Regions from separate parts of the Homo sapiens genome. Here all the other regions are linked to region 3. Evidence: fine-mapped expression QTL. A gene starts in region 3. Each other region holds a variant in brackets. All regions are shown on one strand. Distances are between the middles of the regions. Region 1 overlaps NEIL2 (nei like DNA glycosylase 2). Region 2 overlaps FDFT1 (farnesyl-diphosphate farnesyltransferase 1). Region 3 holds the start of FDFT1 (farnesyl-diphosphate farnesyltransferase 1).

What was found. PIP is the estimated chance that this variant, and not a neighbour inherited with it, causes the effect.
Region 1: its variant is the best candidate, but not a certain one, in a credible set for the expression of FDFT1 in atrial appendage (GTEx, PIP 0.57).
Region 2: its variant is the best candidate, but not a certain one, in a credible set for the expression of FDFT1 in whole blood (TOPMed, PIP 0.75).

The regions. Positions count from the first base shown.
Region 1 is chr8:11,772,080-11,779,937 of GRCh38, reverse strand. NEIL2 (nei like DNA glycosylase 2) reads right to left here. Exons shown (of 5, transcript NM_145043.4): 3 at 1-340. Among named protein-coding and RNA genes, the nearest start is that of NEIL2, 6.3 kb to the right of the region's middle. The variant GCTT/T (reference allele first, on the strand shown) is at 4,617.
Region 2 is chr8:11,821,473-11,829,717 of GRCh38, reverse strand. It overlaps FDFT1 (farnesyl-diphosphate farnesyltransferase 1), which reads right to left. Exons shown (of 8, transcript NM_004462.5): 4 at 7,840-7,968; 5 at 3,503-3,694. Among named protein-coding and RNA genes, the nearest start is that of FDFT1, 23 kb to the right of the region's middle. The variant T/C (reference allele first, on the strand shown) is at 5,316.
Region 3 is chr8:11,799,201-11,805,191 of GRCh38, reverse strand. FDFT1 (farnesyl-diphosphate farnesyltransferase 1) reads right to left here and starts at 2,451. Exons shown (of 8, transcript NM_004462.5): 1 at 2,261-2,451. The coding sequence starts at 2,359. LOC105379243 (a long non-coding RNA gene) reads left to right here and starts at 3,837. Exons shown (of 3, transcript XR_948962.4): 1 at 3,837-3,879. RefSeq lists silencers at 2,073-2,192, 2,403-2,652, 4,830-4,889 and enhancers at 2,723-2,882, 2,920-3,661, 3,662-4,404, 4,534-5,177.

The DNA.
Region 1 (7,858 bases), 26 kb after region 3:
CCCTCCAGTCCCCCCTCTTGTTGGCTTTCTTGGCTCTGGAGAAATCGTTCACCCAAACGCTGCCAAACAAACCAAAGCTGACACGCAGCCACCTCCCAGCATCTCCTGCAGGGGCGTCTCTCTCCAAATACTCAGAATCATCCTCGCCCTGGGGGACGAGCTCTGCAGACCGTGAGGATCCATCAAGGGTCTTCTGCCCGCTGGGCTCCCCGACCTGCTTTGGGTCCGCAGCCCCTTCCTTCTGCACTTCTTTTTGTGGAGGCTCTGGTGTTGGGCTGCTGCCAGGGGGCCCCATTTCTTCATCTAGATCAAATCTAAGGAATAATTTCTTTCCATGGACCTAGAAAAAATGAACAGAGATCCAAGCCTTACAGACCCAGAGAGGGGAACTGGGGAATGCGGATATTTATCCTATTGCAAAGGTCTTCCTTCTCACCCCTCCTGGGGGGCCTTCCCAAATGAAGTCTTTGGACTCTGCCTTTTGCTCTTTTGCTCCAGTGGTGTGAGCAGTTCGCATGTGGTTTTCAAAGTGACTGGGAGCAAGGAGACTTAGTTGGCAGTGAAACACACCCATGCAAGATGGCAAGGCCACCCTGGAATACCTGAAGGGAATCGCTCCCAATTTTTTCATGCAGTAGCTAAGAAATGAACATAAGTTGTCATTCCTTCATTCCATTCGTAATACATTTTCTATGCCAGAAATAAGCGGTGCGTGGGAATGCACACATACAGAGCAGCTAAAGACAACACCCTGTGAAACTGGGTACCCCTCGCTACCCCCTCCACCAGCATATTGGACTTGATAAGGAAACTGTAATCAATAAAAATTAGATACTGAAACAAAAATTGATCAGTGAATCAGATCACCACTCTAAAAAGTATAAGGCAAAGGACCCACCTCATCTCACTGAAAATGATTTCAGTAGAAGAAAATAAATATAGAAAATGTGTGTTAAAGGATGTTCTGCTGTCTTTTTTTTTTTTTTTTTTTTTTCAGATGGAGTCTCGCCTAGACTGGAGTGTAGTGGCACCATCTTGGCTCACTGCAGCCTCCATCTCCTGGGTTCAAGTGATTCTCTTGCCTCAGCTTCCCAAGTAGCTGGGACTGTAGGTGCACACCACCACCCCCAGCTAATTTTTGTATATTTAGCAGAGACCACGTCTCACCACGTTAGCAAGGCTGGTCTCGAACTCCTGACCTCAAGCGATCTGCCCGTCTTGGCCTCCCAAAGTGTTGGGATTCCAGGCATGAGCCACCATGCCTGGGCCCTTGCTTTGACTTTATTTTCATATTGCACCTCCTGATATGCAATATGTAGGCCTAGATTCCAGGATGAGTCAGTTCTACACAGCCTGAAATTCAGGCAGTCTTTCAAGGAGTATAAACCAAAATATCTGGCATTAATACTGGAAATGCCTGTGTTACTTTCTTGACCACTACAGGTCCGTGCTTAAAGATCACTGTTCTGGTATGATCTTTAACTTGTTAATTAGTACACAAATTAATCTTGAAGTCCTCCACCCAAAAGAGCATTACCTTTCGAAATAATCCCAGAATAGCTTATCTGTAAATCTGAGCACAGATTGTTATCTGCCACATATTAGAAATGGTTTAACTGACCTACATAAAAAAAAAAAAAAAAAAAACTGAGCAAGGATTTAAGTGGGCATAATAGAATTTGCTGCAGAAAATATTTCTTGGTATAAACTCACCAATGTTGATATAATTCTGATGAAAATAACTGTCAAATGCCCATCATGAACAAAACATTTACTAGGTCAAAAATGTCTAGGTCAGGATGTCCTCATACCAACTATGGCAATTTCTGCTGTCCCTCTTTTGGGTTCCTGTGACACTGCAGCCACTTCAATTCACTAATCATTAATTAAGCTTATTCAATGTGCCTGGCAGTGTGCTAGGCTCCAAGGGCAAACAGATGAATAAGGCTCTGCAATGCTTTCAATGTGTTCCTCAAAAAGTATGTGTTGGAAACTTAATCCCCAATGGAACAGTGGTAAGAGATGGCAACTTTGAGATTAGGCCATAGAGCTCTGGCCTCCTGAATGGAATAATGCCAATTGCAAATGACACGGCAAGATGCCAATGCCATGCCCTTGGACTTTCCAGGCTCCAGAACTGTGAGCTAAATAGACTTACATTGCTTATAAATTATGCAGTCTCAAATATTCTGTAATAGCAGCAAAATTAGATTACAACAATCTCCAATCTTCCCTTATCTATAACATGGGTGAACTTTGAGGACTTTATACTAAGTGAAATAAGCCAGTCAAAAAAACTCCAAATACTGTATAATTCCACTGATATGAGGTATCTGGGGAAGTAAAATTCATCGAGACAGAAAGTAGAAAGGTGATTGCCAGGGGCTGCAGGGAGGGAGGAAAGGGGGAGTTAGCGTTCAACAGGTATGGAGTCTCAGCTTGGGGAGATAAAAAAGTTCAGGGAAACTGTTAGACAACGTGAATACACTTAACATGACTGAACTATATACTTTAAAATGGTTAAGACAGTAAAGTTTGTTATGTGTTTTTCATCACAATTTTAAAAATTTTTAAAAGGCGGTGGGGGTGGGAGGGGGACAACTGTGAAAACAGATACTACAAGAGCACAGAGAAAAGTGTGGCTAGGCCAGGCACAGTGGCTCATGCCTGTAATCCCTGCACTTTGGGAGGCTGAGACGAGAGGATTGCTTGAGCCCAGGAGATCGAGACCAGCCTGGGTAACAAAGTGAAACGCCCATCTGTACAAAAAAAAAAGAAAAGAAAAGTGTGGGTAGAAGCAGACGTAGCACACGGAAGAAGAGTCTACATGATGAGGGGAAGCTGGCCGTTACCTGGGCTGGGCTTCACAAGAAGAGTGGAGGGCAGAGGAGACAGGGTGTGCCCAGCTGAGGGGACATACCTGAAGGCAGAGGTGGAAACCCTACACTGGAACAGGGGCTCCTGGTCAGACACAGCAGCCAGGGCGTGCGCTGTTAGCACTACTCCCAACAAACCCGCTATAGGAACCAAAGAGCTCTCAACTCTCAGGACCAAGAGGAGGAGCAGACAGGAGATACAAAGTCCCCCCAGAAGATGAGGAACAGGCACAGGAAGGGTAACTGATGAGGGAGAGCAGAGACCCCTGCTGCAGCAGAGGGGAGCCCCAAGGAAGAGAGAACCCAGGGGACCTACCCATCGTGACCCCAGGTGACCTGGAGATGGGGAGGCCCCAGGTGCTGTGGCAAGAGGTTAAAAATGGAAGGATTGGTCCTCATACACTGCTGGTGGGATGATAAAATGGTGCAGCTGCCTTGGAAAACACTACAGAAGACACTAAAAAAGTTCAACATACTATATGGTCCAGCAATTCCACTCCTAGGAATACTCTCAAGAGAAATGGAAACATACGTCTACACCAATACTTGCATATGAATGCCCACAGCAGCATTATCCATAGAAGTCAAAGAGTTGAAACAATCCGAGTGTCCAACAACTGATGACTGGACATCACTGACCATAAAATGTGTGATATGGTTTGGCTGTGTCTCCACCCAAATCTCATCTTGAATTTTAGCTCCCATAATTCCCACGTGTTGTGGGGGGGACCCGGTGGGAGATAACTGAATCATGGGGATGGGTTTTTTCCCATGCTGTTCCCACAACAGTAAGTCTCACAAGATCTGATGGTTTTATAAAGGGCAGTTCCCCTGCACATGCTCTTTCTTGCCTGCTGCCATGTAAGACATGCCTTTGCTTCTCCTTTGCCTTCCACCATGATTATGAGGACTCCCCAGACATGTGGAATTGTGAGTCCACTAAACCTCTTCCCTTTATAAATTACCAAGTCTTGGTTATGTCTTTATCAGCAGCATGAGAACAGACTAATACTGTAAACTGGTATTGGGAGGGGGGCATTGCTGTAAAGACATCTAAAAATGCGGAAGCAACTTTGGAACTGGGTAACAGGCAGAGGTTGAAACAGTCTGGAGGGCTCAGAAGAAGACAGGAAAATGTGGGAAAGTTTGGAACTTCCTAGATACTTGTTGAATGGCTTTGATCAAAATGCTGATAGTGATATGGACAATAAGGTACAGGCTGAAGTGGTCTCAGATGGAGATGAGGAACTTGCTGGGAACTAGAGTAAAGGTGATTCTTGCTGTGCTAAGAGACTGGTGGCATTTTGCCCCTGCCCTAGAGATCTATGGAAATTTGAACTTGAGAGACATGATTATGGCATCTGGTGAAAGAAATTTCTAAGTGGCAAAGCATTCAAGAGGAAGCAGAGCACAGAAGTTTGAAAAATTTGCAGCCTGATGATGCAGTAGAAAAGAAAAACCCATTTTCTGGGGAGAAATTCAAGCTGGCTGCAGAAATTTGCATAAGTAACTAGGAGTCAAATGCTAACCACCAAGCCAATAAGGAAAATGTCTCCAGAGCATGTCAGAGACCTTCACAGCAGCCCCTCCCATCACAGGTCCAGACACCTAGAAGGAAAAAATGGTTTCCTGGGCCAGATCCAGGGCCCCCTCTGCTGTGTGCAGCCTAGGGACTTGGTGCCCTGTGTCCTAGCCCCTCCAGCCATGGCTAAAAAGCGCCAATGTACAACCCAGGCTGCT[GCTT/T]CAGAGGGTACAAGCCCCAAGCCTTGGCGGTTCACATGTGGTGTTGAGCCTGCAGGTGCACAGAAGTTAAGAATGGAGGTTTGGAAACCTCCACCTAGATTTCTGAGGATGTATAGAAACAACGGGATGTCCAGGCAGAGGTGTGCTGCAGGGGCAGAGCCCTCATTGAGAACCTCTGCTAGGGCAGTGCAGAAGGAAAAGACGGGGTTAGAGCCCCAAGGCAGAGTTCCCACTGGGGCACTGCCTAGTAGAGCTGTGAGAAGAGGGCCACTGTCCTCCAGACCCCAGAATGGTAGATCTACTGACAGCTTGCACCCTGCCCTGGAAAACACACAGACACTCAATGCCAGCCTGTGAAAGCAGCCAGGATGACGGACTGTACCCTACCAAAGCCACAGAGGCAGAGCTGCCCAAGGCCGTGGGAGTCTACCTCTTGCATCAGCGTGCCCTGGATGAGAGACATGGAGTCAAAGATCATTTTGGAGCTTTAAGATTTGACTGCCTCACTGGATTTCAGACTTGCATGGGGCCTGTAGCCCCTTCGTTTTGGCCAATTTCTCCCATTTGAAACAGGTGTATTTACCCAATGCCTGTACCCCCATTGTATCTAGGAAGTAACTAACTTGCTTTTGATTTTACAGGCTCATAGGTGGAAGCAACCTGCCTTGTCTCAGATGAGACTTTGGACTGTGGCCTATTAAATTAATGCTGAAATGAATTAAGACTTTTGGGGACTGTTGGGAAGGCATGATTGGTTTTGAAATGTGAGGACTTGTGCTTTGGAAGGGCCTGGGGGTGGAATAATATAACTCCCATGATTCCCATGTGTTATGGGACGGACCTGGTGGGAGGTACCCAGTGGGAGGTAATTGAATCATGGGGGCTGTTCTCGTGATAGTAAATAAGTCTCAAGAGATCTGATGGGTTTTTTGTTGTTGTTGTTTTTCAGATGGAGTCTCACTCTGTTGCTGAGGCTGGAGCGCAGGTGCGATCTCAGCTCACTGCAACCTCTGTCTCCTGGGTTCAAGCAATTCTCCTGCCTCAGCCTCCCAAGTAGCTGGGATTACAGGCGCCCACCACCATGCCCAGCTAATTTGTGCATCTTTAGTAGAGATGGGGTTTAACATGTTGGCCAGGCTGGTCTCAAACTCCTGACCTCAGGCGACCTGCCCACCTCTGCCTCCCAAAGTGCTGGGATTACAGGCATGAGCCACTGCACCTGGCCTGACGGTTTTATAAATGGTAATTCCCCTGCACAAGCTCTCTTGCCTTCCACCATGTAGGATGTGCCTTTGTTTCCCCTTCGCCTACTGCCATAATTGCGAGGCCTCCCCAGCCATGCAGAACTGTGAGTCCATTAAACCTCTTTCCTTCATAAATTACCCAGTCTTGGAAGGGGAGAGTAGAAGGAGCTTGGTTTCCAATGTTGCTCCTATACCACCCTGGACTGTTCCATTACTGGAGGAGGAGAAAACCATGAGCTAGAGTAGCCATTTTTCTGAGTCTGTTATGAGTAATCCAACACAACTCCTATATAGAAAATGGAGAGCTGACAAGAAAAGGATGTGCCAGACAAACAGATGGCACAGAGTGCAGCCAAGCTCCCTCCTGCCTCATCAACTCACCCTGCTCACTCCACCTCCATCGGCCCGCCTGTAACTGCTTCTCAAGCCTGAAATGCCCTTTCCTCCCTCTTCAGTCCACTGAAATCCTCCAGCCTTCAAGGCCCAACTCAAGTCCTACCTCCTGCACATCTTCTCCAGGCCACCGGGACCTCTTCCTGTCAGGGTCATTACCTGGGCCTTTATGATGTGCTCTGCCCTCCCCATTTAGCATAGCTTAATAGTGTGGCCTGTGTCGATACAAGCCGTATGTTCTCAATTCAGTTCTAAGTTCCTAGGGTCAGGGACCCGCCGACAGGGAGAAGCAGGGAAGGGCGCTCACTTCAAAGCACTGCCAGGCAGCCCCGAAGGTTCCCTGCAACCTTAGGTTCCCTGCAACATGGTTTTCTGCTTGGTTTACTGGGAAAGCAGCTCCCAGTCCCGTCTACGGGTTCCTTCACCGCACATCCATCTGCCCACCCATCCACTTGGGAAATATTCTCTTACAGCCAGCTCTGTGGCAGACACCCTGGTAAGTGCTGGGGATCCAGAGACAAGAGACAATTCTGCCCCTGCAAACCTCGAAGGACAGTGTGTACAAAGAGGCCACAGTCCTGGAGGCCATGGGACCCCGTGCTCTCACCTGTTCCTTGCCAGCCACCTGAGCTTGGGCTAAGTACTCCCTTCTCCGAGCCTCAGTCTCCAAAGGAATCAACTATGGGTACAGGGCTACAGGATCTCTTCCAGTTCTAACTAACAACGGTTTTAAAACCTCTGTGTGTGTGTGTTGCGGGGGTGGGGGGTGAGGGCAAGATGGAAGAAAGGGAACTAGTACTTATGGAGTACCCGTTATGTGCCAGGCATAAACTCTACTTAAAACAACAACTTTAAGAGGTCAATGGCTTATCTCCATTCTACAATAGAAGAAAGAGCTATGAGATGAACATGCTTAAGAGCACACGGCTAAGCAGCAGCAGAGCGCGTGAGCTCATCCACAGGCACCACCCGTGCTTCCTACGTGCCGGCACTCAGCTAAGTGCTGGGGGCACAATACTGGCGAGGAGCAGCCCCTGCCCTCTGCATCTGTCCTCTCCCCTCAACAAGCAGAACAACTCAGTAAAAAGGGAAGAACAGGAGGAAGTACATGATGTCCTGGAAGCACAGAGATGGAGTCTCCTTCCCACCTAAAGCAGACAGGGCAGGCTTCTCTGAGGATGCAATGGCCAAGTGGAAGCTGGAAGACCAGGAATTACCATTATAAATTGAGGGAACAGGGGCAGAGTTGGGAGAAAAAGGAAGAAGTGCTTGAGCAGGGGGCAGCAAGTGAAAACCACGGACAGAAACACTAAGAAGAGCCAAAGGCAGTTTCATCGATCAGAAGACAGGTTTGGGGCAGGATAAGAAGGCTAGAGAGGGAGGCAGTGGTGAGAAAACAGGGAGCTCCGTGAGCCCCTGGAAGGATGAGCTGGTTTGAACCTAGATCTGAAGGTTCTGCTCTTTTCTTTTCTTTTTTTTGAGACGGAGTCTCACTCTGTCACCCAGGCTGGAGTGCAGTAGCACAATCTCATCTCACTGCAATCTCGGCCTCCCGGGTTCAAGCAATTCTCCTGCCTCAGCTTCCCGAGCAGCTGGGATTAC
Region 2 (8,245 bases), 23 kb before region 3:
TGGAAGTGAGTTACGTATTGGGGAGCATGTCCCGAGGGACAACTAGTGCAACACTGCACTACTTGGACGAATTCAGGCTAAAGAGGCTCCTGTTAGAGCTACTGGCCTACTTCTGAAAAAAATAACCCAATATACAAAAACAGTTATAATTGTACTGCAGACTAAACAGTAAACCTTCTCAAGATGGCCAGGCCTCTAAATAATGACTAACATTATATTCCTACTCTGGTAAGAAAGCTGCTGAAAGGCATAGCTGGGAAATGAGCTGAGTCTATCCTCTAAGTGTATTACACCTCCCTGGATCCTGATAACTTGAAAGTGAAATAAAACCTTTAATTCTAACAGTGGGATTCGGCTTGATGATTTTTAATGATATTATTTAGAGGATTCTCTGAAGCTAGCGAAAGTTCTGGAAACATAGTGTTGATGGTTATATAACATCATTAATGTACTTAATGCCACTGAATAATAGACTTAAAAATAGTTAAAATGGCAAATTCTCTATTATGTACATTTATTATAAATAAAATGTTAAGTATATATACATACAGTTAAAAAGAGATAACAACAAGTGCTGGTGAAACTGGGACTCTCACACTGCTGACGGGAATGTAAAATGGTGGAGCGACCTTGGAAAAGCGTCTGGCAGCTCCTCACAAGGTTCGAGCTGCTGTATGAACCAGCAATTCCACTTCTCAGCATAGACCCAAGAAAAAGGAAAACACACATCTACACAAAAACTTATATGCAAATGTACACAGTACTATTCACCATAGCCAAAAAAAATGGGAAGAACCCAAATATCCTTCAACTGATGAATGGATAAATGTGGTCTATCCACACAGTGGAATAATACTAGGCGATAAAAAGGAATAAAGCAGTGATGCAATGCCCCAGCATGGAGGAGCCCTGAAAACATGCTAGCAAAAGAAGCCAATCACCTAGGACCACATTTGGCATGATTCAACTACTACGAAATGTCCAGAACCTTTACTAAGCACTCTATGCTAGAAGTTCATCTCATTTTATTCACACCACCACCGTGTGGTAGAAATGATGCTATTTTACAGATAAAGTAAGTGAATGAGAAGAGCAGGGCTCTGCTCCTGTGTGTGCAAGATGGTGTGGCTCACGCTCATGCATCACATGCCCGTGGCTGATGTTCTGTCTGGGAGACAATGGAACAGTGGTCAGGGGCTGGCCTAGGAGCCGGGAGACTGAGACTCCACTTCCAAGGCAGCCACTGCCTCACTATACATCCCCAGACAATCCCCTTCCCTTCTCTGAGCCCTGTGTCTGCAAAAGAGGGGTAAGACAAGAGTGGTTTCTCAACCCTGGCTGCACACGAGTCACCTAGGAAACTTAAAAGGCCATGTCTGAGCTGAGGGAAGTGTTTTTTGTTTTTTTGTTGTTGTTTGTTTGTTTTGAGACAAGGGTTTTGCTCTGTCTCCCAGGCTGCTAGAATGCAGTGGTGCGATCATGGTTCACTGCAGCCTTGAACTCCTGGGCTCAGGCAATCCTCCTGCCTCAACCTCCCAAGGAGCGAGAACTATAGGGGTGTGCCACTATACCCAGCTAATTTTTGATTTTTTTTTTTTAAATGGAGTCTCACATCAGCCTCCCAAGTAGCTGGCCCTACCAGCGTATGCCACCACACTTGGCTAATTTTTGTAATTTTAGTAGAGACGGAGTTTTGCCATGTTGGCCAGGCTGTTCTCAAACACCTGACCTCAAGTGATCCACTCACCTGGGCTTCCCAAAGTGCTGGGATTATAGGCAGGAGTCACTGTGCCCGGCCAATTTTTACTGTTTTTTTTGTTTTGTTTTGTTTTGTTTTGTTTTAAGAGATAAGGTCTCACTACGTTGTCCAGGCTGGTCTCGATATCCTGGCTTCAGTGATCTTCCTACCTTGGTCTCCCAGTGTTGAGATTACAGGCGTGAGCCACCTTGCCCAGCCCCCAGAGTAGTTTAAATGTGAATTTTTCTTAGGAGTAAGACTCAGCATCTTTTCAGATTTTTAATAATCATCTGTGTGTCTCTTCCTGTGAACTATCTTGTTCTTATCTCCTTGCCCATTTTTCTGTGGGGCAGTTGGCCTTTTTCTTAACTTTTAGAAGTTTTTTTTAATATTAGGAATATGAACCCTGTATCTGCTCTATGAATTGCAAATATTGTTTCCCTCTGTCACTTTTTTTTTTTCTTGAGACAGTTTCATTCTGCCACCGAGGCTGGAGTGCAGTGGTGTGATTACAACTCAATCCAACCTTGAGCTCCTGCGCTCAAGGGATCCTTGTGCCTTAGCCTCCCGAATACCTAGGAATACAGGTGCATGCCAACATGCCCAGTTAATCTTTTAAATTTAGTTTTATTTTTTCTACTTTCTTTAATTTTTATTTTTGCTCTTTCAGCAGAATCATTTTCTAACAATTTTTTATAGAGATGGTATCTTGCTGTGTTGCTCAGGCTGGTCTTGAACTCCTGGCCTCAGCACTGGGATTATAAGTATGAGACACCACACTTAGCCTCACCCGTCTTTTTAAAACTTTAAAGTACTTGGCTGCAGGAAACACTTTTATGGAAAGCAAAAGGTAAATGCTGGAATAAATTCAGGGAACAGTCATAAAATTTTCTACTTTCCTTCTGAACAAAATCAGTATCAAAAGCTTTCTGTTCCCTGTCCATGTTTTAATTAAAGATCGACCCTGTCCCTTATTACAGACACCTGGAGTTTTTGTCTACCTGCCATCCCTTTCCCCTTCCTGCTGCAGAATTCTTTCTTTGGGGGAAATCCATTCTGTGTGTACTGTGTAGACGTAATCCAGGCGAGGCCAGAGAACTCAGCTGTGTAGCAACAGTAACTGATTCAGGGCTGAGCAGAAGAACCAAGCCCTTCCTCTTCTTTTGAGAGGGAGTCTCACTCTGTCGCCCAGGCTGGAGTGCAGTGGCACAATCTGAGCTCACCGCAATCTCTGCTTCCTGGGTTCAAGCGATTCTCCTGCCTCAGCCTCCCAGGTAGCTGGGATTACAAGCCCTTGCCACCACGCCCGGCTAATTTTTGTATTTTTTAGTAAACACGGGGTTTCACGATGTTGGCCAGGCTGGTCTCGAACTCCTGGCCTCAGGTGATCCGCCCACCTTGGCCTCTCAAACTGTTGGGATTACAGGCATGAGCCACTGCGCCAGGCCGAACAAAGCCATTCCTAAGAACTTTTTGTTAAGCTAGTGCACATGGGTTGTTACCATATCCACCACTTGGAGAAAGACCGTCTGAAAGAAATCAAGGACAGCAAGGCTTGAATATACTGATTACGTGGTGTGAATCCTGGGAGTCAGCCAGTCTACCTGAAGCAAACTCATGTCAAGCTATCCTATTTTCCACATCCCCTTATGCTGCCTGGGGGAGGCCTGACTTGTTTTTCTGTCACCCGCAACCACAAGAGTTAAAGGATTTTTCAGAGAATGTCTAAAGTTATTTTCCCCCAAAATACCCTGAATCTGTTACCTCTTGAGGCCAGAACTCTCTTCCTCCTTGCTGGTCTTCCAGATAGTCACGGATGATGTTTGTTTTCTGCAAAAACAGGCCCATAGAGTTGGCACGTTCTGTATCTTCACCAACTAAGGGGTCTTCAAACTCTGAGGCTGAGAAAAGACGGGAAAGGCCAATTCCGACCAGCCCAGCAACATAGTGGCAGTACTGTAAGAGACGATTTTTAAAGCACTTTAATAATGGAATTTTTACTGAAATGGACACACTAGAGATCATTAGCTACAAAAAAGCAGGTTCAAAAGAGAATGGGTAAGAATGCATTTTGATTTTAAAATACAAATATACATACCAGGATTTAAAAAACATTCAAGAAGGATGTGCTCAAAACATTTCATAGCAGTCTCTGGCTGACGGGAATTTGATGTTTTTATTTTTCACTTGTATTTTCCAAATTTCTACAATACACATGTACTGCTACTATAATAAAAGGCTACTGAAAAAAACTAGTAAACATTTTTTTATTTTTATTTTTTATTTTTTTTTTGAGATGGAGTCTCATATATTTGCCCACGTTAGACTCAAACTACTGGACCCAAGCAATCTTTCTGCCTCAGCTTCCCGAACAGCTGGGATTGTAGGCAAATACCACCGTGTCTAGCTTTACAATAACTTTTTTTTTTTTTTTTTTTTTGAGATCAAGTCTCACTTTGTCCCCTGGGCTGGAGTGCACTGGCACAATCTCAACTCACTGCAACCTCTGCCTCTTGGGTTCAAGTGATTCTCCTGCCTCAGCTTCCTGAGTAGCTGGAATTAAAGCACCCACCACCACATCCAGCTAATTTTTTATTTTTAGTAGAGACGGGGTTTCACCATGTTGGCCACGCTGGTCTCGAACTCCTGACCTCAACTGATCTGCCAGCCTTGGCCTCCCAAAGTGCTGGGATTACCAGCCCAAGACACCGTGCCCGCCCTAGCTTTACAATAAACTTTTTGATACATAAAACTATGAGAGAAGGCAACGATGAAAGATGGAATATTCTGGTAACAGGAACTAGGACAATACCAACTATGGTTTAATCTTTTTTTGACCAATCTGATAACATGTCAAGATCCGCAGGCCCTCAAAATCATCATTATATGAAAGAACAAATAACTATTTTATGTTCTTGACACGGTTTTAAGAACTCTGCACATTCAGCCGGGCACGATGGCTCATGCCTGTAATCCCAGCACTTTGGGAAGCTGAGACGGGCGGATCACGAGATCAGGAGATCAAGACCATCCTGGCTAAGACGGTGAAACCCCGTCTCTACTAAAAATACAAAAAAATTAGCTGGCCTGGTGGCGGGTGCCTGTAGTCCCAGCTACTCAGAAGGCTAAGGCAGGAGAATGGCGTGAACCCAGGAGGTGGAGCTTGCAGGGAGCCGAGATCGCGCCACTGCACTCCAGCCTGGGCGACAGAGTGAGACTCCGTCTCAAAACAACAACAACAGAAAAAAAGAACTCTGCACATTCAATCCTCACAAACATTGTATCAGGTACATAGCAGTATGATCTCCATTTCAGATGAGGAAACTGAGGCACAAAGAAGTCGATTTAACTTGCCCAACATTGCCCATGTGAGAAAAAAAAAAAATTAGCCAGGCACAGTGACACAGGCCAGTGGTCCCAGTTACTCAGGGGGCTGAAGTAGGAGGCTCGCTTGAACCCAGGAAGGTTCAAGGGGCTGCCGTGTCTGTGGCAGGGGCTAAGAGTTCAAAACTAGGTAGTATGACTTAAGTGTCAGGCTTTAACAACTTTGCTAAAACTTCCCCTTTTCTTTTTAGTT[T/C]TTCTTTTAGAGACAACGTAACTTCCCCTCTCTCAACAGAGATTTCAGTAAATGCAACTCTTAATTGCCAAATACTTTTTTTTTCCGCGACAGCAATTTGTCAAAAGCTGTCCTCCTCTGAAAAGGGTATCCTAAGACAACTTAATGCAATATCCACATACAATAATTGTCTATTAGTTAACTTAAGAAGCAAAAGTAAAGAAGGTAAGCTCTGGAGTGTCATTAGGAAGGGTAAAAGTTAGGAAATGACCGAAGTTCACGCCTGTAATCCCGGAATTTTGGGAGGCTGTGGAGAGGGGACTGCTTGAGCCCAAGAGTTTTAGACCAGCCTGGCCAACAAAGCAAGACCTCATCTCTGTAAAAAATTTTAAAAGGCTGAGTGTAGTGGCTCACACCTGGGAGGCTAAGGCAGGTGAATCGCTTGAGCCCAGGAGCTCAAGACCAGCCTAGGCAACACGATGAAACCCTGTCTCTACCAAAAAATTACAAAAATTAGCCTGGTGTAGTGGTGTGGACCTATAGTCCCAGCTAATGGGGAGGCTGAGGTGAGAGGACTGCTTGAGCACAGGAGGTGAAGGCTGCAGTGAGCCTTGATCATGCCACTACACTCCAGCCTGGGTGACAGAGCAATACCCTGTCTCAAAAATAATAAAAATTAAAATAAATTAGCCAGGCATGGTGGCAACGTGCCTGTGGTCCCAGTTACTCAGGAGGCTGAGGGCAAGGAAGATTGCTTGAGCCCAGAAGGTCAAGGCTGCCTTGTCTGTGCCACTGCATTCCAGTCTGGGTGACAGAGTGAGACCCTGTCTCAAAAAAAAAAAGTCGTCTCTGACTGAAAGTAATACAAAGCCAGAGACTAATCAGGGGGAAGAATGCACAGGTGAAGAGAAAGCACTTGAAATTTGTTCTGGGACAAAAGTAACATGAAAAGAGTGAAATCTTGCTGAAATTAGGTAGACAGAAATTGGCTTTGGACAGCTATACAAAATCTTCAAAAGAATTACTAGAAATTTAAAAAAAAATTAGTATATCTATAGTACTATCCAAAAATATATTTGAAGATAATAGTTCTTTTGGTAGAAATACTCCTAAAATGGAGACTTATATAATTCATCTTCCCCCAAAGTAGAAGAAAAAAAATAACTCCTTGAAATAATTGGCTGGTCATGCCTGTAATCCCAACATTTGAGAGGCCAGAGTGGGAGGACTGTTTGATGCCAGGAGTTTGAGACTAGCCTGGGCAACATGGCAAAACCCTCTCTCTACAAAAAATGTACAAAAATGAGCCTGGTATGGTGTCATGCACTGTAGTTACAGCTACTCGGTAGGCTGAGGTGGGAGGATCACCTGAGCCCAGGAGGTTGAGGCTGCGGGGAGCCGTGATCACACCACTACACACCAGCCTGGATAACAGCAAGACCCTGTCTCAAAAAAAATTTTTTTTAATTCAATTTTATCTGATCAAAACTTCTATTCAACAACCTAAAATTAAGTTTCCTGAATAAATCTGCACAACAGAAAATGAGTTACTATCATAACCAGTGCTGGTTCTTGGCCAGAAGTTTTAACTTCAACTTTATTTTCTTTCAGATGGTGTCTTGCTCTGTCACCCACGTTGGAGTGCAGTGGCACAATCATGGCTCACTGCAACCTTCAACTCTTGGGCTCAAGCAATCCTCCCACACCTCAGCCTCCAGAGTAGCTGGGACCACAGGCACATGCCACCAATTCCCTGCTCATTTTTTAATTTTTTGAAAGACGGGGTCTCGCTATGTTGCTTAGGCTTGTGTCTAACTCCTGGGCTCAAATGATCCTCCCACCTCAGCCTCCCAAAGTGCTGAGATTACAGGTAAACCATAGTACCCGGCTAACTTCACCTTAAATGCAGAAATTGATTTCTAGCAGTCATTGTATGCTGTTAACTTAGGAAGCACAAATCAGCAGTTCCAAAGATAACTGCTGTCAAGTTTTGAGGTTTGAAAAATTAAGAGGCCCAAGACCTTGGACCTACACTAACGTAGTGACCATGTAGCAGCATCTTTTCGGAGATCCTAATTTAAGCACAGTTAAAGGTATGAAATACATCAACACTTTAGATGTCTGAAATGTCTCTGCCTGCTAAATCTGACTGGCTTTAAAATAAATAAATAAAATGTCTTTACTTCCACAGAAGTGATGAGTAAGTCTCACAAACACCATTCCTATGAAAAATAGGCAAGACTCCTAACCCTACCTTATGTTTTGATGTGTAGTTTTAATCTTCATGGTCAATTACATCCCTTTGTCTAGATAAGCACTTCTCTCCAGTACCCTACTCCTAGCCTGGCTGATATCCTACATAGCTGCTGGTTTGGAATTAACTCTGGAATAAACTGTTTATGATGAGACATTCAACCTAAACAGATGAATTGTAAAACCAGAGGGGCTGAAAATACTGGACAACTTTTCTTGTTCTGAGCTTCACTATGAGGACTGCCAGCTCTGTCTAATACATCACACACAGACACTGTTTTATGAGACTAACCTTGTCCCACTCCTGTTCAGAGGTCACATGCTTATCCAAAAACTCTGCCATCCCAATGCCCATTCTCCGGCAAATGTCGGCAATCACTGTTTGGTATTTCTCAGCCAGATTTCTAAACTCAAGGGAGATCTGAAATGGAAACCGTAAAAACACAGAAATCATGAAATATGTACAGACATGGCACCAAAGATCACAAGGCAAACAATGGCGGAATTAATCATGACTGCAATGGTTCATCTATAAGCCTAATTTAGGTCACACATTTTTTTTGTTTTTGTTTTTGTTTTTGAGATGGAGTCTCGCAATGTTGCCCAGGCTGGAGTGCAATGGCACGATCTCAGCTCACTGCAAACTCCGCCTCCCAGGTTCAAATGATTCTCCTGCCTCAGCCTCTCCAGGAGCTGGC
Region 3 (5,991 bases):
GTAATCCCAGCACTTTGAAGGCTGAGGTGGGAAAATCGCTTGAGCTCAGGAGTTCAAGACCAGCCTGGGCAATGCAGCGAGACATTGTGTCTACAAAAAAATTTAAAAATTAGCCATGCATTGGTGACACGTGCCTGGAGTCCCAGCTACTCGGGATCAGGAAGCCGAGGTGGGAGGATGGCTTCAGCCAAGGAAGTCAAAACTGGAGTGAGTCATGTTCAGGCCACAGCATTCTAGCCTGGACGATGGAGTGAGACCCCCCCCTCAAAAAAAAAAAAAAAAAGGCCGGGTGCAGTGGCTCACGCCTGTAATCCTAGCACTTTGGGAGACCAAGGCGAGCAGATCACTTGAGGTCAAGAGTTCAAAACCAGCCTCACCAACATGGTGAAACCCCGTCTCTACTAAAAATACCAAAAAATCAGCCGGGCGTAGTGGCAGGTGCCTGTAATCCCAGCTACTCAGCAGGCTGAGGCAGGAGAATTGCTTGAACCCAGGAGGCGGAGGCTGCATCTAGCTGAGGTCCCGCCACCACTGCACTCCAGCCTGGGTAACAGAGCAAGACTCCATCTCAAAAAAAAAAAAAAAAAAAAAGAGAAACTAAGATAATGTTAAGTGAAGGGAAATGTATTTTTCCAATTTATTTCCCCTAATTAAAGGTTCAGGTATTTTTTTAACGGCTCATGGGGATGTAAAAACTGCCCAGAAAGACTACAACTAACATAACAAATACTGCACCATATTATCAGAGCTAGAATAGCTCAAGTCTCGCTTTTAAAAAAACTCAAAATGTACAAAAACAGTATACTGTGAAGTCTTTCTCTACCCACTTACCATGACCACCCACTTTCCCTCCCAACAGGAAACCAATGCTACCATTTTCTCTAACAGTCTTTCTGTAGAAAGGAAAGAGACATAGAGGAATGAAGTCTGGACCCAAATGAGGTCTGACTGCACTCAGATCCCTTGCCCTGCTAGTATCTTCCTCTGCAGTGCTTTTCTCCACGTGAAAAACTGTACATTCGCTTTCTTAAATTGTCTCTCTTCCACTAAAAAGTAAGTTTTATAAAATCAAGGTCTTCACCTAGCTTGTTCACTGTTGTACCTCCAGCACCTAGAACACTATCTGATATACAACTGGTCGTCAAATATTTGTTAAATAAATGAATGCTATATCTAAATATAAAAAGTGACATCTGCCATATCAAATAATAGAAGTTATTCTGTAGCAAAATAATTCAAATAATGTAGCACCGGCAAAGAAAAGATGAAGAAAACTGAATGTTCTACAAATAGACTGAAGGATGTACCTGTATTAAAGATAGCACGTGAAAAATAACACCAAATGAGGGTGTAGTCTACTGGGGACAAAAACCAGAAATTTATTTTCTAGTGTGTTTACTGAAGCACATGGACACTGAAAGAAAGACTCCGATGTTCAGGCACCTATCAAGCCTCGGCCTGAGTCACATTTGCTACTGTCCTGTTGGCCCAAAAAAGTTACAGAAATCAGCCAGGCTGGTCCAGACCAGAAGAACTTGGCTGAATTTGTCTATTCATTCAATAATCGCGTACGAATAATTTTCTTGTTGGAATAAAAACACCTCCTATGCATTCATTAAACAAATAGTACAGGCATGAGGCAGATAAAAATCTAAGTAAAACCAAGTTCTGACCTTCCACCAACCACCTAGCTAATCCATAGACGTTAGATAACTCATTGGAACTTGGAAGCGTAGATAGGCGATTTTAAAACTCAGGAAGCACCGAGGATGAAGCGATGGAAGGCAGCAAGGCGGGGAGAGCTCCGGAAGAGGTGGTGAAACTGGAGGAGTCAGACTTCATTCCAGAAACGGCCTTCATGTGATGTTATCTGCATAGTTCATTCCGCTTACCAAAAAACTCACTCGTCCTCTCCCGCGTAACCCACCCACATTGCCTCAGATGTGTAACCCTCGGGTTAAAATACCGGTAAGCGCCGATGCTCACGGAGGGGACGAAACGGGGAGCGCAACCACCGGGAACCACGCAAAAGTCGCTCATGCCCAGGGCGGCTTGCGGGGGCAGGGACAGGTCAGCCAGGACGGCCGCGTCCACCCGGGCCCTACAGGGGGAAGGCTCGAGGAAAGGGGGACGGGAACACCCAGGCGTCGGCCCTGCTCGCCGCGCCCCTTGCCCCAGATCCGGGCCCGGCCGCTCAGGCCCTGAGGCCGGCCCAGCGAGCTCCTTCCCCGCCCCGGGCAAGCAGGGAGGCTCGGCCCACCTGGTCCATCTTGGGCATCACCTTCCGCTTGCCCCCGATCCGGAAGCGCACCAGGTTGTAGAACTCTTCGGGGTGGCCAAGGCATTTCACGAACTCCATCCTGGCGCAGGCGGCGGACTCCCGGGCGCGACTCTCACCTCTGCGGTCCCCAGGCGCTCACCGGCCGGCTGGACCTGTGGAGTAGGTGCTTCGAGGGGCTGGCCGGACAGGGGGCAGGCCTAGTACGGCGACGCCCCGCCCGCCGCTCCGCCCACTTCAACCGGCCTCGGCCGCCAGCGGGGCTAGCTGCGGCCTCGTGGGGTGGGCTGACGGGCGCTGATTGGCCAGGGCCGCTCACACTAGGAAGACCCCGGCCAATCAGTCGCGGAAGGAGACTGGCGTGATAACACTCTAGAAGCTCATTGGAGGCCGAGAAAGAGGCCGACGAGCGGGATTGGTGCCCTGATGGAGCCGGGCCTTTGTTTTCTTCCGCTTACCCCGGCTGGGAGCGCGAACGCTGTGGGGACTGGAGGTGAGGCGGTGGGGCTTAGGATGCGCAGGAGCCCAACGGTGGTCCGCAGTCGGGAGAGCAGTGCGGGGCTGCTTCCTCCCCACTTGGTCAATAAGTCGCCCACGTGTCCGGCCTCGGTGGCTCCTGCCAGCCGGGTGAGCTCTGCAGCCGCTCTCTGTAGAGCCTAAAACCGTGAAAAGGCCGGGCCAGCGCCAAGCTGGGCGTCTTTACTGTAACACACCCGAGCACAGCCCAGCTCGCCTGCCCGCCACCGCCATCCAGCCCCAGGGAGCCCCACACACTCCTGGAGCTTCAGCTGCCCCCTCTCTAGTGTTTACTTGAGATCCAGCTTAGTCCTAGAAAAAGGAGCTGAAGCCTTAGAGAGCCTGTAACAGGAATGTGGAAACTTCTCTCATCCTAGATCTCTCCAGCCCTAGAAACTACTGGCTACCCGTCCAGGCGTGGTGGCTCACGCCTGTAATCGCAACACTTTGGGAGGCCAAGGCGGGTGGATCACGAGGTCAAGAGATCGAGACCATCCTGGCCAACATGGTGAAACCCGTCTCTACTAAAAATACAAAAAAGCCGAGTGTGGTGGTGGGCGCCTGTAGTCCCAACTACTCCGGAGGCTGAGGCAGGAGAATCACTTGAACCCGGGAAGCGGAGTTTGCAGTGAGCCAAGATGACACCGCTGCACTCCAGCCAGGCCAACAGAGCAAGACTACGTCTCCAAAAAAAAAAAAAAACCTACTGGCTACCTAAGCCATCCTGCAGTCTGTTTTAACACAGCAACCAGTAATCCTTTTAAAACCTGTCAGGTCTAGCCGAGCGCGGTGGCTCATGCCTGTAATCCCAGCACTTTGGGAGGCCAAGGCGGGCGGATCACCTGAGGTCTGGAGTTCAAGACCAGCCTGGCCAACATGCTGAAACTGCGTCTCTACTAAAAATACAAAAATTAGCCAGGCATGGTGGCAGGCGCCTATAATCCCAGCTACCTGGGAGGCTGAGGCAGGAGAATCGCTTGAACACAGGAGGCAGAGGTTGCAGTGAGCTGAGATCGCGCTATTGCACTCCAGCCTGGGGGACAAGAGCGAGACTTCATCTCAAAAACAAACAGGAAACCTGTCAGGTACGTTCACTGCCCAAAGCTGTTCAGTGTCTCTCCAACAAAAGCCAAAGCACCTATAGGGATCCTGAGAGGCTGCAGCCTTCCACCCAGATTACCTCTCTGGCCTCCATCTCTTATGCTTTTGCTTTCTCTGGCCCTAGGACTTTTTGTCTAGCTGTTCACTATTCCTGCACTATCCCCCAGATACTGGCTTGACTAACTCCTGTGCCCCTCGAGTCTGCTCACACCTCATCTAGACCCACCTGTTTGCCCTCTCTCACATTTCCACCACTGCTAATCCCAGTGGGGGTCTACTTGCCTATATTTACCATATTCTAATACATCATTTACTTATGTATTAGATTACAGAGTGTTTCCCCTACTACTGTAAACTAAAAATCCTAAGTCCCTACCACTGGACAGCCCTCCCACTCCCCACCTCGGCCAAGGGAACCCCAGAAAAATCTTAAAAACTTAGTTTCCAGCCATGACGGTATAAAAAGTAAAGTAGAGGTTCCTCTTCAAAGACTTTCCTCCCCATTTAATTAGGAATAAATAGTAACTTCTCTTAGAAGCAAACTTTATTCAAAGACCTGTGCTAACATTCTTAAATATCTGCTAGCTATGATAAAGAAATCAATGTACTTCATGTTCTTAGCTCTCACAATTTAGCCTAAATATTTGCCCTGGCATGCTTATAGTGGTCCAAGAAAGCATTAGGTCATAGCCTGTTCCTCTTCCTTATTTGAAGGTGTTTCAACCTTTGTCACCATTCCACAAGTTACTTCCTCCTTCCTTTGTTCTCCTCTACCTTTGCCTCTTTTAAAAACTTCTAAGTTGCTAGCCAATCGGGACAAATACAGAACGTGAGGCACCGTTCCAGCCAATGGAAACTAGACACAAGCAGTGGGGTGGACGAGTCAGGTTATAAATGACCCTGTCTCCTTTGTTTGGTATACTCCCATGGCAAAACTGCTGGCGAGTGTACCCTTTCTGCAGGAAGTAAAAATGGCCTGCTTAGTAAATTAATGTTCAAGCGCCTTTTTTTTTTTTTTTTTTTTTTTTTTTTTTTTGAGACAGAATTTCACTCTTGTTGCCAGGCTGGAGTGCAGTGGCACAGTCTCGGTTCACTGCCACCTCTGCCTTCTGGGTTCAAGTGCTTCTCCTGCCTCAGCCTCCCGAGTAGCTGGGATTACAGGCGCCCAACCACCACGCCTGGGTAATTTTTCGATTTTTAGTAGAGACAGGGTTTCACCATGTTGGCCAGACTGGTCTTGAACTCCTGACCTCATGATCCACCCTCCTCGGCCTCCCAAAGTGCTAGGATTACAGGCAAGCCACTGCGCCCAGCCTTCGAGTGCTATTTCTTCTTCATTTTTTTTTTTTTTTTAAATGGAGTCTCACTCTGTCGTGAGGCTGGAGTGCAGTGGCGCGATCTTGGTTCACTGCAACCTCTGGCTCCCAGGTTCAAGTGAGTCTCCTGCCTTAGCCTCCCGAGTAGCTGGAACTACAGGCATGTACCACCACGGCCAGCTAATTTTTTTATTTTTAGTTGAGACAGGGTTTCACCATGTTGGTTAGGATGGTCTCAATCTCTTGACCTCGTGATCCGCCCGCCTCAGCCTCCCCAGGTACTGGGATTACAGGCGTGAGCCACGGCTCCCAGCCTACAAGTGCTATTTCTTTCCAGCACCAGGGAAAAAGCATTTCAAATAACGGGACAGGAGATCAGATAGCCCTCATTGTACCCCCTTCCTTTTGGAGTTCATACACAACTGGCTGGCATTAACATTAAAACAGAGATCATAAGACTAACGGAACAGACTCTGTGGCAATAAGATACCCAATTATAAACAGGACCTAAGGCCATGCAGGCAATGGTGAAGTCAGGCACCCCTACACTTGAAGAATCAACTAAGCTCTAACTGCCACAGGGCTCTTCTTTTTCTCCAGCAGCTAAACGCTGGCCTTGAGATAAGCAATAGTAAAACACCTGCAGCTCCACCAGACAGTGACTAATTGAACCCCTGTTCCACCAGCCATAACTACAGCTTTGACTGGTCAAGAGATTGATCTCAGTAACTTTCTCCTGATAAGACCGCCGACCGTGGACTGGTCTGGCCAGTTTACAGA